Linked DNA regions of Homo sapiens. The protein of the gene in region 1 interacts with the protein of each later gene in a pairwise test. Each region holds a gene or a part of one and is shown on either strand. Other genes may lie near its edges. The genes, in order: GPC5 and MAGEC3.

Evidence for each region.
Region 2: the proteins of GPC5 (region 1) and MAGEC3 interact in binary tests that used the Homo sapiens proteins (3 or more experiments, as listed by UniProt).

What each region holds. Positions count from the first base shown.
Region 1 is NC_000013.11:91,393,762-91,401,841, forward strand, and holds the start of GPC5 (glypican-5 precursor), read left to right. Parts: upstream 1-4,859; 5' UTR 4,860-5,285; coding exon 5,286-5,448; intron 5,449-8,080. UniProt on the Homo sapiens protein: Cell surface proteoglycan that bears heparan sulfate.
Region 2 is NC_000023.11:141,834,195-141,841,495, reverse strand, and holds the start of MAGEC3 (melanoma-associated antigen C3), read right to left. Parts: upstream 3,181-7,301; coding exon 3,058-3,180; intron 1-3,057.

The DNA.
Region 1 (8,080 bases):
CAGACACACATGTGTGTGTATATATATACACATTAGTGGTATACTGACACGTGTGTGTGTGTGTGTGTGTGATTTTTGAAAATGTTTGCTGATCAAAGATTCCCACTGACTGTCATGTTAATTTCAGTTTGGTGTCTGGTTTTGAGTATTTTATGTAATATTTTATTTGCTGTGTAGTCTCTCCTTTAGGCAGCCTTGCCTTCTCCTCTCCTCTCCTCGCCTCGCCTTACCTCGCCTCACCTCTCCTCTCTTCTTTTTTCGTTTCTTTTGAGACAGGGTCTCACGCTGTTACCCAGGCTGGAATGCAGTGGTGCGAACATGGCTCACTGCAGCCTCAACCTGCTGGGCTCAAGTGATCCTCCTACTTTAGCCTCCCAAGCTGCTGGGGCTTACAGGCATGTGCCATTATGCCTGGCCATTTTTTTGGAATTTTTGTAGAGACAGAGTTTCCCTATGTTGCCCAGGCTGGTCTCAAACTCCTGGGCTCAAGTGATCCTCCTGCCTTAGCCTCCCAAAGTGCTGAGATTACGGGCGAGAGCTACTGTGCCCGGTGGTGATTTTTTTTTTTTTTAACAGAACCATTACTATCTTCACTAGAGGAGATTTCAGGGGAGTATCACTCAATTTTCTCCTGGTTACTTGGTGGCAGAAATTCATTACTGGGGCAGCTCGGGCTGACATCCAACTTGGTTCTCTTTATTGTGCAACCAACGGCTTAGAGCCTACATCGGAGGGAGAGAGAAGGTAGGGCAAGACAAAAGTCAGCACTTTTTTGGAAATAATGAAGTGGAAGTTATTTGTATTAAGGATATTCTTTCTCTGACAACCTCCTTTTCACCCAGTTGATGAAAGAGGGATCCCCCTTTGTAAATTATACGAGATGATCAAACACACAAGACTGGACAGATGAGATTTACAGCAGTTTGTTAGTCACACATACTCATAGCCCAGGGGAGGAGGCTACCACATGCCATGCAGGGCCATACAGGGGAGGAGGGGCTTCATTTGGGAGCAGAGTGAACCTGCAGGAGTTGTGGGAGGCAAGCTTTGTAGTAACAAGAAGATGGTGTGTTGTGGGGAGGACCCCTTGGTTCCCACAGGAGGATGTGATTATCTTGTTGGACTAATTGCTCTGAAGGGAGGTGAAAGCCATTAGGTTGAAGACAGGGTGGGATGGAGCTGGTCCAGCTAAGGGAGGTAGCCAGCAAGCAAGACTTTCCATCTGGGTGGGGGGCATATCTGGCCAGAGCAGGAGAACTCATGACTAGGGACCTGTGAGGCTCAAAGATGTCAAGGCAGTTCGTGGGATTTTAGTGCTTGCAAAACAGTTCTCCTAGTTAAAAGCTTAGTGGAGGTAGGAAGTAGGAGCAGGTAGTACCTTGGCCAGCCCCACGTCAGTGAGGTACTATCAGGCCATCGTTGAAGCCAATGCAGAGCTCTGGACCACTATAACCAAGGTGTTCAGCAGGTTGTCCACATGGATAGCTGTGAGTACCAGAGTTTATATTTATATGATAGGTTGAGTTCAAGGGGCCACAAACCAGGTGTCTGGCTTTTCAGGCAGGCGAGTGTAGTGACTAAAGGGGTACAAAAGTTATGAAGCCTGGCTTGCATTTGGGCTCTTATCAGGATTTCTGGAAGGTTATTTAATCTCTTTGTACTTCAGTTTTCTCAGTAGTATAATAGTAACTGTCTCATGGAATGGTTGAAATGTTAAATGAGATAATATCTGTAAGTGCTTAATAAATCTTAGCTCTTGTCATTGACTGGGTATAAAAGTTACCCAAATCAGCTTCTGAGGGTAAACTAATTAGTGGCCAGTCTTAGCCTAAAAGAATAGTCAGGGTTGAAGACTCTGTGATATCATTAAATCACCTAAACCACACTGGAGGTTTTCTTTCTTTCTTTTTTTTTGTGAGATGGAGTCTCACTCTGTCCCCCAGGCTGGAGTCCTGTGGCACGATCTGGGCTCACTGCAATCTCTGCCTCCTGGGTTCAAGCGATTCTCCTGCCTCAGCCTCTTGAGTAGCTGGGATTACAGGCATGGGCCACCACACCCACCTAATTTTCATATTTTTAGTAGAGATGGAGTTTCACCATGTTGGCCAGATGCTCTCGATCTCCTGACCTCGTGATCCACCCGCCTCAGCCTCCCAAAGTGCTGGGATTACAGGCGTGAACCACCGCACCCGGCCGAGGTTTTTTATTTCTCTTTACAAGGTCCTAAGTTGACAAACTATAAACATATAAACAGTTACATAGAAAGTATCAGGGAAGTTTTGGATTTAGAATATTACTAAGCTGTATTTTAAATAATGACCATTTAAGGATTCTCCTATCCAAGGGTATTGGTATTTTGAAAGCAAAGCGCAATGCCTATTATATAAAAGACATTCAATACATTTTTTAAATACATTTTGTAAAATAAGGCATTATAACTATCAAATTATGGACAGTTTTCCCTAGCTTCATTTGTAATGTTTACCAGTAAATTGAATAAAAGGCTAGTTATGGTATAATTTGCAGAGGTTGCTCTAGAATGTTCTTATAAAAGGGATCGTGGCATTGTGTTCTGGGTGGAACTAGAAAACTTGTCTTGAAGCTTGGTAGCTTCAGTAGCAGGCATACTGTTGCCTTGCGTGGTGGGCTTAGGGATGCTAATAGGACAAGATGCCCTTCCAGGCCACATGCTGGCTCATCCACTTTGCTAGCAGTTATGGATAAGAGGTAGAAGGAAAATATATTTATTTTTTGTTAATGGGGATATTTTATACAGACTAAATATATTCTTGTTAGTTCCTATGGCATTTCTATAAATGACCTCCCACCTGTTTTGTTAACTTATAAAATCACTGAGAAAACTTGCTTGTGTGTCTCTTTAAACTCCTGTTAAGCCTAGAATAGCGGTTAAAAAAATTGTATGTTTTCAACCAATATGTATTAGTCAATTAGCTTTTACTGAACCATCAATACTCAGTTGTGTTTATGATTTTTATCCTTGCAAGACACACCGTTTTAGAGATTCCAGTTAATGGGATAGATGGTAATTTAAGGATCTTTTTGATGCTAAGAGTCTAAGATGATCAAATCTATCAAGGAGAGATCTTGGTAACAATAAAGATGTTTTAGAAAAACTTGGGAATTTATTAGCCTTATATAGAGATACACATAATTCCAGTAGAATACAGTTATATAGATAGAAATTATGCATATTTACTAGTAAAAAATCTGCTAAATGAATAAACAGCCCTTGGTGTTGCTGCCCAAAGGCCTTTGGTGAAACCTGATGGGTTTTTCTGTACCACAGAATAGTCAAGGAGAGCCTCTGGAGAAGAGCATGCGGTCTGGATTTGGAAGCCTCAGTTTGATTTCTGGCTTTGTCACTTACCTTAGGCATTCAGTAAGTCACTTCACCTCTGTGTTCCTGTTTCCTCATCTGTAAAACAATGATAATAGTAGTAACTACTTTATAAGGTTGTTATAAAGATTACATGAGTGAATTCATTTCCATAAAATACTTAGAATATTATCTGGCCCATAAGCACTATATACATTCTCATGGTTTTTCTTGTTTCTTTTCATAGATATAGGTGGCTTCCAGACAATCTTTCCATACTTGGTGGTTAGAGCAGAAGAGATTCATGAAGAGCACTGCCCTTTGAAACAAAATCTCATATTCAGAAAACTGATGCCAAACACCAAGTAGCATGATTTCACTCTGAAGCAGTGTTTCAGCCATTGCCCTGGAATGGTTTTAAAGCAAGTGATATACTGCTGAAAGTGCTGCCTTTGATATTAAATGTTCATTAAAAATCTTCACTAAGACATAAAGTTTTTCACTACTATCTCTTGGTAAGGGTTCAAATTTGAGATGAAATTCCTTAAAGTGGTTAAAGCATTCATTGTCCCCTCTGCCTGATGCTTTTAACTAGTTTATTTTACAGAAGGAGTACTCTCTTCAAGTGGCTGTAGATTGAGACACTCTTACAGGCTTAGTTGTTGAGTCAACCACATTTAAAAAATGCACCTGCCCTTTGGTTTATGGTGCGTAATGCATTCCTCTCATAAACTGTAAATTGACAAAATTCCTTTGCCATTTTAAAATTGCTTAAAGTATTTATTTTTCTATATTCCTTGTAAGGAACTCCCCTGAGCACTCTTAACTTAATTGCTCTCTGAAAAATATTTTAAAGAAATTCCAGAAGTGGTAAAGCTCAGAGGAGCCCCACAAATACAAAGTGCTGAAGTAAAATATGATGCTAAATGGTGATAAGAGACTTAAAACTAGATTTCATTGTGATAAGAATGTGATAAAGTTTGATTGTAATTCTTATACCTCCTTTCAGAAAATCATGTTATAGAAAAATGTTCCTAAGCAGTAAAACAAAGCCATTTTAAAAAATAACTTCTCATGTGCACTCTTTAACAACCTAAGTGTTATGAAGTCTCTCAATTGAGATCTTTAACCGTAAATAGTTTTTGCCTTTTGTATTATGTCCAGATCCTATTTAATGCAATTAGAATACAAATTCCTATGTACTGAGGACCTTGATTACATAGATGAGATATTTCTTAGTTCCAGTTGGTGTTTCTCATCTCTTGTCTTCTCTGACCCTATTTATACATTCTCTGTTTTTATCAGATGATTCTTCCCCAGAACGGACTGGGAGAGCGAGGTCCGGGTTTCCTTCTATTTATTTGCATCGATGTCGCTCCGAGTCTTCAGCACTGGGCCGCGTATGACAGCATCTTAGTGGGTGCGGAGCGGGACAGCGCGCCGGGGGCGTGGCAGGGGCGTGGCCTGTCCGCGGGGCGGGGAGTGCGGGGCGGGGCTTCCGCGGAGCGCAGCGAGCGGGCACATCCCAGGTTAGCTGCTGCGAGCCGAGCCGGGCGGCGGAGGCGGCGGCGGCGGCGGCAGTGGCGGCAGTGGCGGCAGTGGCGGCAGCGGCAGCAGTTGCAGCAGTGGTGGCCAGAGCGGATGCTTGCGGGCTCCCTGCGGCTCCACTAGTTTTCTTCGCCCCGCCCAGCCGCCCACTCTTCTCGGCTAGGGAAGAAGACCAGAGGGTGCTCAGCTGGAAAACTCTGGTGTCTCAGCTTAGGGCCTCCTCCGGGAAGAGCTAACTGCTCCCAGGTGAAGCCGGTGCCCGCGGGCGGTCCGTACACCCCGCAGCCGGCTCGCACCGCTCGAGAGCCTCGGCCGCTGTGTCTTCCACGTCTGCAGCTCAGCCAGGGCGCGCAGGGCGAGTGGGGTCCACTGGCGGGTAAAGGGGACCAGGACGGCGAGGATGGACGCACAGACCTGGCCCGTGGGCTTTCGCTGCCTCCTCCTTCTGGCCCTGGTTGGGTCCGCCCGCAGCGAGGGCGTGCAGACCTGCGAAGAAGTTCGGAAACTTTTCCAGTGGCGGCTGCTGGGAGCTGTCAGGGGGCTGCCGGATTCGCCGCGGGCAGGTAAGGGGCAATGAGGGGGTCTCTGGACTGGCGGCGTCCGAGCCCGGCCTTCGCTCCCCCAGGCTCCCTTGGTGGCACTCGTGGGAAGATGACCTTTCGGGCCCTGCAGCCGCGCAGGGTGAATCCCGGGGAGGCTTCCGGGGATGCTTGGTGCGGGTAGCCTGAGTGCAGCGCAGCGCAGCTCTGGGGACCCCTAACCAAGCCTGCGACGAATCCCCGTTCTGGGCATCTGCTTCCCGCCCGGCTCCCTTCGTCTTGGAGGATGAGTTGGAAGGAACCAGGAAAGCAGACATCAGGGCGTGGGGGACACGCAGTCTAACTCCGTTTCTCTTCCGAGTAGGAATTTCCCCAGTGCCCCACCGGGGATTTCGGTTTACTGCTTTCTCATAAGGTGGAGGGAATTGAATTGATCGCCCCAAGTTTGGTACTAAAAATCACAAACCTGCGATATACCCCTTTGCTGGAGAATGGGGCACAGACAAGGGCAGCCGGTCTCCTCTGTAATTAGGACTTGGACCCTGTGCACCCAGAGACGTGACCCTTAGCTGCCCTTCTGTGCCCTCGTATCAAGCCCTGCTTGGAGGAAACCCAACCACCCAGTGTGTCTCCCAGCACCAAGGTAGTTTTTAGCCTGAAAAGTGTTAGGGCAACAGGCGATCAAACCGAACGTACTGGGGAGTCACTTGACATGGATGAGATGTACCAGCGTTCCAAAGGGAAAGATACAGTTTGTGTGGCCAGCGTGGATCTTGCTTCCTGTGAGCGCCTTTTGCCTGTGCTTTCGAACCCTGCTCCCCGTTTCCACCGCACCAATTTCCTTCTGCTGGTGGGAGTTCCAGTGTAGGTTCTGTCTGGAAGAATAGGTCATAGCTGTCAAACGCAATAGCAGGTGTCTAGAGCTAAGTAAGATCTCACTAGAGCCATGCACCCCTTTAGCTGTGACTATGAAGCCAACACAGACGAATCTGTGAGGTTACTGGTTGAACAAAGAACTTGTGGAGGACGCTTAAGTCTAAAGTCCCGAGTTTCCAGGGTTGGGGGACTTGCTTGTAGCAATGAGGAAGTGTGAGCTGTAGCCGCTTTTCTTGATTGCTTTGCTCAATTTTAAGTCATCCCAGAAAGAAAATCTAGGCATTCGGGAACACTGACTCCATTTGAGTTTACATGACCAGTCTTAAACCCAGCTATTTCTTTGTATACCTGTTTGGTACTAGGTGCTTTTTCTGTATTACTTGAAACAAAGTTGACATTCTCAGTTTAGGGCGATTCTTCTATCCCCAAATAAAATATCGCCTTATAGATCTGTATTTTTCTTAGTGCATTCTTTTCATTAGGAAATAAATCTCACTTTATTGGCTGCTGATAAAACTAAAGTGAGTTTGTGCGTGTGGGTGGTGAGGGTGTTATGATGTGAGATCTTTACCTGAATTATTAGATTTTTAGTCCCCAAATATGGTAACTTTGCCTGCTATGTTCACCGAATGTTGATGGCCAGCCCCTTCTCCCCAGTAAGGCCCTGATTTCACTCCACTCTGGTATCTCAGTATTTCTGGTATCTGCTGAATGCAACACATTGATTGGGTGTTCATCTCTTTTAAAGATGAACTTTCCAGAGTATCAGTCACTGAGACAGTGTCTTACCAGGATGTCAGGGAAAACTAAAGCTCTGTCCTAAGGAGAGGGAAATGACTGTAATTATTTGCATTTGATACACATGACACACAAAAAAGTTCCATGACGACAAGGAATCTTTCTTTTCTAAGTCACTCTGGATTGTTTCCCCATTGCTAGTAGATTTTTTAAATCTGTGGCTGAAGGTGATGGAGGAATCACGGGAGCACTCACAGAAGAGGCTTAGAGACATCAGTGGTACTGGTGAAAAGAAATGCTAAGTTCCTTTAATATTTTCACTAAGAAAAAGTCACACAAAAGTGCTATGCTGATTTAGATCCACCCCCCAAAAAAGGCATTCATATAGGAATTTGATATAATTCTGAAGTTTTGTGTCTGTATTGTTGGTCATTCTTTTACAAATAATTCAGCAAAATATTAAACTTTTTTAAACACTGATTCCTCTCATCTCTCTAAAAAAAAAAACCCCTCAATCCCAAATTGAGTAAACCAAACATACCACATGCTTAATAAATAATTTTCTTTCTTTTTGTATTTATATATGATCTACAACATTTAACATGATTGAATATGGTAATTGACTATCATATTTTCTAAGATTATCCTCAATCTCAAGAGAGAACATAATTTAGTCATTTCTCCATGAGAATACAAATAGTAATATCTTTTAACAAATCTATTCATTTAGCACATACCCTTTCACTGACTAAAACAAACACATTTAATTTGATTTTGTTTTTGGAAGTACGTATTTTTACTGCTTTCTTGCATTTCTTGTTCACAGTGGTTAATCCCTGAGATGTCTAGCCAAAACACAGTTTGTATAATATAAGCAGGTAGAATAAGTTTTTAGTTTCTTCCTACCTTTGTGACTTTTACTTTTTCTGATAAAAATGTTATCCAAATTGAAATTATTAAAATTGTGAGAGCAGTGATTTAAACTGTTTCTCAGATTCCCCTCACCTTTGTTCTCTACCCTGCTCCAATTCTTTTAAGCCTA
Region 2 (7,301 bases), on another chromosome or scaffold:
ATGTGCAGGTTTGTTATATAGGTAAACTCTGTGTCATGGGGGTTTGGTGTACAGATTATTTCATCACCCAGGTAATATGTATAATAACTATAGATAGCTTTTTGATCAAGTACTAGGGACTATCAAGAATGTAAAATACGGCAATATGTTTGCGAATGTCATGAGATTTAACTCAGGTGGTCAGGAAATTCCTCTTTAAGAAGATGCAATTTGTTTGGAGACCTGAAATATCCAAAAGGAGTCTTTGGATTTGATAATTAAAATGGCTTTGATGGTCTTGCAAAGTACAGCTTTATTTGAGTGGTAGAGACAGGAGTCAGAGAGCACCAGGTTGAAGAAAGAGTGACTGGTAAGTAAGAAGAGACAGACAAGAAGCTTCACTCTTGTGAGGCTTAAGTGGAAAGAAAAGAAGAAAGAAGAAAAGAAGTGAGAAGGAAAAGCAGAGTGAAGTTATTATCACATTATTTTTTACAATTCACCTTTAAAGTGGTTCCTGATGCTTCCTCTTACTTAAATTTTTATTTAATATTAAACATATTTATAAACTATAGTTAATTAGCCAGTAGAAAGGCAGATGTTGAAAATACAGAAAAAAAAAGAAGCAGTGGAGCAAGGTCCATTCTCAATCCCCTTGAATAGAACAATTTATTCATTAACTATTTACTGAGCATTTTTGTGTTTGTTTTGTTTTTGTTCTTGTGGGGTTTTTTTTTTTGATGTGAAAAACACACAAAAGCATAACTACCCACTGACCAATTTTGCAGGAGGACTCATGCTAATGCTAATACATCAGGCTGAATTTTAGACAGAATGGTTGAAGAAAATAAATGCTGAACAGTCCACTTTAATATGGCAATTTAGTGAGGAGAGGCACTCTCTCCCATTTAGAGACACAAGAAAATATTGCTTCTGTGAAAATCTTCTTAACATGGAGATGTTAGTAATGATGCCAAATTTATGAAATGTTCTTAAAGAGGTCTGAACAAAGTTTGCTACATAGAACAAATTCAAAATAATATGTAATTATATGTTTTTCCAATATCATATACTTTTGAAAAATGCAAAATCTTGTGCTAAATGTAACTTTCACTTTCTTAAATCACTTTTATGTCAATATTCTTATGAAAATATTTCTTAAAATTAAATGATATTTTATGACCTGATATTCTCTACTTGTCATTTATTTAGATTGCAAGCTAAAAACTAATTAGAAAGACTATACTTTTGCTGTTAACTTTCTCAGAGGTAAAATATCACTTTTCTTTAGTGGTTTGTGATGCTATGAATGAATACTTTCCAGGTTGGGTATTTCCTGGCTGTTAAATATCAGTTAAGTTTTGGCTGACTTCACCTCCATCTATCAACCTCCCTGCCAATCATTTAACAGCTATAGAATAGGTCTCCTCACACAAATCCTTCAGGAAGAATTTCCATTGTGCACATTCTGACCAGAAGAAAAAATGCAGCAAATTTTTGGAAAGTGAATCATTTTTAGAGTTCTGAGCAAATTATGTTAAACTCAGGGTTTCTCACTGTCAGCACCATCACATTTTAGGCAGTATAATTCTTTCTTGTGTGAGGTCGTCCTTTGTCCAATAAGACGCTTAGAAGCATCTCTGTCTCTGCTTATTAAATACCAGTAGCATTCCCTGCTGCCACCAATTATGACAACCAACAATATTTCTAGATATTGGCAAGTATCCCCTAAGTGGCAAAATCTCTTCCAGTTAAGAACCACTGAGTTAAGAACAGTAAGTAATGATCCAGGGAAAATGGATATAAAGATATTAAAAAGCTAGTAAAGCATTTGACATATTAGAAATGCATATAAACAATTCATATTTATAAAATAAAATCTACTGAAGATATAATGAATAAACACTTGTTTTGGTGAGCAAGCTTGGGATTGCAGCTGTGGGCCTGGAAGTGGTAGGAGCTGCAAAGCCTGCCCAGGATTAGCTGTAGCCAGAGCCGGCAGCCAAGACAATAGCAAAGATCAATTTGACCTCAAGATATAATCAAATATGACAGCAGAGTGAATGAAGCTTTTATTTTGCTCCGTTCTTCTCCATAATCCTTCTTATGCCCATAATCATTATAATTACATAAAATATTTAAAAACCTTTAAAAATTATTTCTTGGAAACCATGAATATGGCAGACTAGAGGCATTTTGTACTCACTTTCTCCATTAAAAATAACCAAACGGTGAGTCGATAATCACACTTTGAATATATAATTCAAAGGAAATCACTGGAATCCATTAGAAAAGTGATAGGCAATACTTAAAGCAGAGATGGAGAGGGAATCAAGGCAGCCTGCTCATCCAGGATCAGCTGTGAGCTGAGAGACTCCAAATACAGAGAAAGGATAGGTGAGAGAGCCTCAGTAGTTTACATTCTCACTATAGACTCCTATAATCCCAGCCACAGGAGATCCCTTCAACCATCATGGGCCCCGAAACTAACATAGAAAGCTGCCAGGAGATTGTATGATGGCACTGCTTCAGGGAGAAAGCTCCCGCTGGGTCCCTCACACTTCTTGAGACTTAAGCAGCTACAACAAAGTACCATTTTAGAGCCCTGCCCTCAACAGACTGAGCACTGTCCTGGAGCCCAGTAGCCCAGGGCTGAGGTGCAAGAGAAGCACGAACTGCTGCCCCAGGGACATAGGCATCAGTGACTACAGACTACAGCATCTGGTGCAGAGGTGGGACGAAGGCGTGGGCTGCTGCTTTTAGGACTGAGGCACAAATGAGGCACCACTGCAGAGCCTCACCCCCGATGAACTACATACTGTCCTGGAGCCCAGTGGCATTGAGGCCTAGGTGCAAACTAAATGTCTGATGTTTCCCTGGAGATTCAGACATGAGCGACCACAGGCTACTGCAACCAAGGGAAAGACATGAACATCAAGGCTGGGCAAGATAGCATCTTAGAGCCTCACCCCCAACAGACTGCACACTGTCTTGGAGCCAAGCAACACTGAGGCTGAGATGCAAAAGAAGAGCTGGCTGTTAACCTGGGGCTTAGACATGAGCATTCATGGGCTACCACACCTGGGGCTGAGGTGGGAGCACCACTGGGGATAAGGCATATGTGGCACATGTGTTTTTCACCCACTGGCCTAGACTGCCATCACTGAAGGTGGCATCCAACACCCAGTGGCAGGGCAGCAGCATGGCCACTGCCACCCTGTCTTTACCAAAGAGATAGAGACCATAAAAAAGGAACGAACAGAAATTCTGGAGCCAAAGAATGCAGTGAATAAACTAAAAAATACACATGAAAGCTTCAACAATATACTCAATCATAACTGACTTATGTTAAGATCACATTTTGCTTGAAGACAGTTTTTTTTGAAATAACGCTGTCAGACAAAAATAAAGAAAAAAAGAAAATAATAAAATAAACCTTTGGAATCTATCTAACAACATAAAGTGACCAAATATAAAAATCACTGATAGCCCAGAAGGCAAAGAGAGAAAACATGTTTTCAAAGACCTATTTATTGAAATAATAGATGACACTTCCTAAGTCGAGCAAGACACTTAGACATTGAGATACAGGAGGCCCATCAATTCCTAAACAGATACAATGTGAAAAGGTCTCTTCCATAGCACATTACAGACAAAATATTTAAAGTTTTTTTTTTCTTTTTTTCCAAGATGGCAGATTGGAAGCATTATAAGCATACTTATCCCACTTGGTAAGACAAAATGGCATGTAGAGATTCATGCTGTAAAATTTATTCGAAGAAACAATGTAAGAACTTAACAGAAAAACTGAAAGAAACCACAGACCCTTTGAATGAAGTGGCAGGCAACAGACTACATCATAAAACAGATGGAAAACCATTAGTCCCCAGAGCATGAGAGAGGGATAGATTGCTGTCATGACATATACTCCCACAGGCGAGCCAGGCAATACAAGTCATGAGGGAGGACTTCAAACCTACTCAGCTCTAGAGGTGATTCAGTGAAAAGTAAGGAATATATAAGAAGGAGCAGCATCGGGACATGCTTTGTGTGCAGACCCAGATTCCAGCAAGAATGGAGGGAAGCCATTCCTGATCCCACCTCACGGGACGTTGCAGAAGTCTAACTCAGGCTGCAGTCACAGTTTGAGAGAAGAGCCCAACTGGGATTTGTGATATAATCCTTAGTAAGGACAAAGCTGATTGGCCAGAACCGAGGGGCAAGTGAGAAGTGTGCTACGGCAACAAGGCACATGAGCTGCATGGCCCTGCTTCACAGGTGGACTGGAAAGGATGCAGCCTGAAAGATATGGTTTCTGTGTCCATAGGGAAAGCTTATGGCCTGGGATGGTTTTAAATTCTGAGCACGGGCCACTTGAAACCCAGTTAGCTGCTGCTGCTAGCAGAACACTGTGGGTATGAAAACTGACTTGCCAAGTGTGTGGGAGCTGAGTGGGGCTTATTACAACCTGCTGCCTCCCACTTTTCAGGCAGATTTTTTGTGCAGCAGAGGCAGCTGTGTTCCTGCCTGGAACATTACCCCACCAGCCAGGGAACTGCCCTCGGATCCCCACTGGGGCCACTGCTTGCACCTGCACATGGGGAGCCAGAGTGCAGACTTGCCTGACTCAGTTTAATAACTTCTGAGGCACAATGAAATCATCCCAATGCCTCCATGTTCAATTTCAGGCACTAACAAGTCCCTGAGGTATTAAATGCATTGCTTTTCTGCGGTCTTGCCACCTTCAGGAGCTTACTAAGAAAATGAAGAAGAGCCACGATCACTCCTCTCAATTAGCCTCTTCCCTTGGCTGAGAAATGTGTTTCCGGTCTTGAGAACACAGAAGTTTTGCATTTGCTCATGAGAGATCTGAAACCTTCTGACACTGCCCTGCATCTTTTCCATTCCCTCTAAATAGAGAAGACTCTTCTCCTGTCTCCTACCTTCTGCTCTGACATCCATTCACTAACACCTAGGCACAAAAAGCCTAGTTCACCCAATGGCAGAAACGGCTAAGGTGGGCCTCTTCCAAGCTATGAACAACATTTCAAAGCTTAAGTCCCTACCCTCTTCCAACACAATGTCCTTTTCATTCCTCTAGCTCAGTAGTGCTCAGATTGGGGGTGATTTTGCACCCCATCCCAAGAAGACATTTTGCAGTCTGGAAATATTTTTGGTTGTCACAACTGGGATGGCTCTTGGTGCTATCGGCATCTATTGAATAGAAACTAGGAATGCTGCTAATCATTCTAAATTCAGCAAGATGACACCCCCTCAAAAAAGCCCACAGAACTATCTGTCTCAAAATGTCAATAGTAATAAAGGTGAAAAACCCTGTAGCTCATTCCTTAATAGGCCACCCAAAGAGATTTTGGATGTTTTCATTTATAAAATTATGCATATATTTTGGCAAATCAACAGCTGTTTCTCACCACTGATGGTTAGACAAGGGAAAGAATAAGGAGACTGATATTATAATGAGCTCATTCTATGCCAGGTACAGTGCTCAATACTTCAGATTTATATTATCACATTTAATCTGTTAAAAATGTCCCAACATGTAGTAACAAGAGTTATTTTTATTTTACAAAGTTAAAAGAAAACTGAATTTTGAACAAATTGAAAGATCGATTCAGATTACAGCATCTGTAAATGGCAGAGCAGAAACTTACTATTAATGATCGCATGGCTTCAGAGCTGATGCCAGCCATCTCAATCTCACAAAGATCTCCGCATTCACTCATCTTTTACCCTCAAGCATTGTCTTACGTAGACATTCCTGACTTATTCCAATGGAAAGTCAAAAACAGAAATTTGATATTCAACAAGGAATATTATGTAGGATTTTGCTGTTGTTTCCTGAAAATTTTTCAATATACTGAATAAGCTATGGGAAAGCAAGCGGAAATAGTGTTGGCTTATAAAACCTCTCACCCTGTGACTAACCAAAATGAACAGAAAGGATTCATCAATGCTGAAACTTGAAACAAAACTGAGTCTTAATCAATATAATTCTTGAGGTATGATTCAGATCCAGTATAATTTGGCCCAGATTGAAAGAAGACTCAAAAATCAATATATAACCCCTATCACTACCTTGGTCCAGATATTCCAATTTGAAGAAGCAAGGAAATTAGACTTGAGCAGATCTGGAGGAAGTGTAGGCTGCACTGTGTGGAGCTTGTTTCTCCACTGCAAATAAGCATTCCTGAGAAACTAAATGCTGGACAAGATGCAAAGCCATACAACCGATGTGATTGCCTCCCTAACTACCTGCCAACCTGTAGTTTATCTTCCTTCTAAACAGACAGAATATCAGAGAGAAGTAGAAGCAATCTCTTGAGAATCATAGCCACAGCCTTCTGCACAGAAAAATACATAGGGTCAAACAAAACAAAAACCTCAACAACCCTGGACTTTTTATGAAAATGAATTTCTCACTTTGAGAGGGAGTAAACTGAAACACAAAAAGGCCATTCTTCACCAACAGATGAGAGCATGCCCCCAACACGGTGCTGCTGATGCCAGTGCATAGGAGCCAAAAAATCAAACTGAGCAACTAAGAAACAAACCAACAACTAAGAAAAAAACTTCCTGACTGCAACTACTCACAGCCCCAGATATCTCCTCACTGTCCCCCAAGCCCCCTGTTCCCATAAAGGAGCTAAATGACTGAACAAAGAATAAAAACAATAAATGTGCAAATTGTTCGGTGCATGTTTCAAGGCATTGGTCCAAAAAAATATGCAGACCAGTTCTGGAAGTTGGGCTAAAAAAGACAGATTCTGAAGCTGCAACTGGAAGATTTCTTTAGTAGGTCTGGAGGGGTGATTGATGCTCTGTACTTTTTCACATCCATGTTTGAGAACCACTGTTCAAAGTGGAGAGAGAGGGTTAAGTCAAAGATTTTCCTAGAACAGAGATATCAAGGAAAACGTATTCATCTATTTTTGGCAGTGGGGACAATCCATGGCCCCAATTCAAAATAAACGAGAAGAAAAACAAATAATAACAGCATAGCACCAATATGTAAAATGCTCTATAACATAGAAGGGAAGAGAACAGGAATACAGCAAGCAAAGACAACTAGCTAAGTAGTATTTGTTGCCAGGTTCTGCAGTAGTGGCTGAAGAACAAAAGTGACCACAGATATTTAACAAGTGGAGAAACTAAAAAATAACTCTAAAATCAATAGGAAACAATAAGGAACATAATCAACCCTATAAAAAATTTAGTAATTTAAAGTATAGGCTTGGGAAACATTAAAACTACACAGGAAATGAAGAGATTTTATAAATATATAGATGTATTCATAAAAACATATT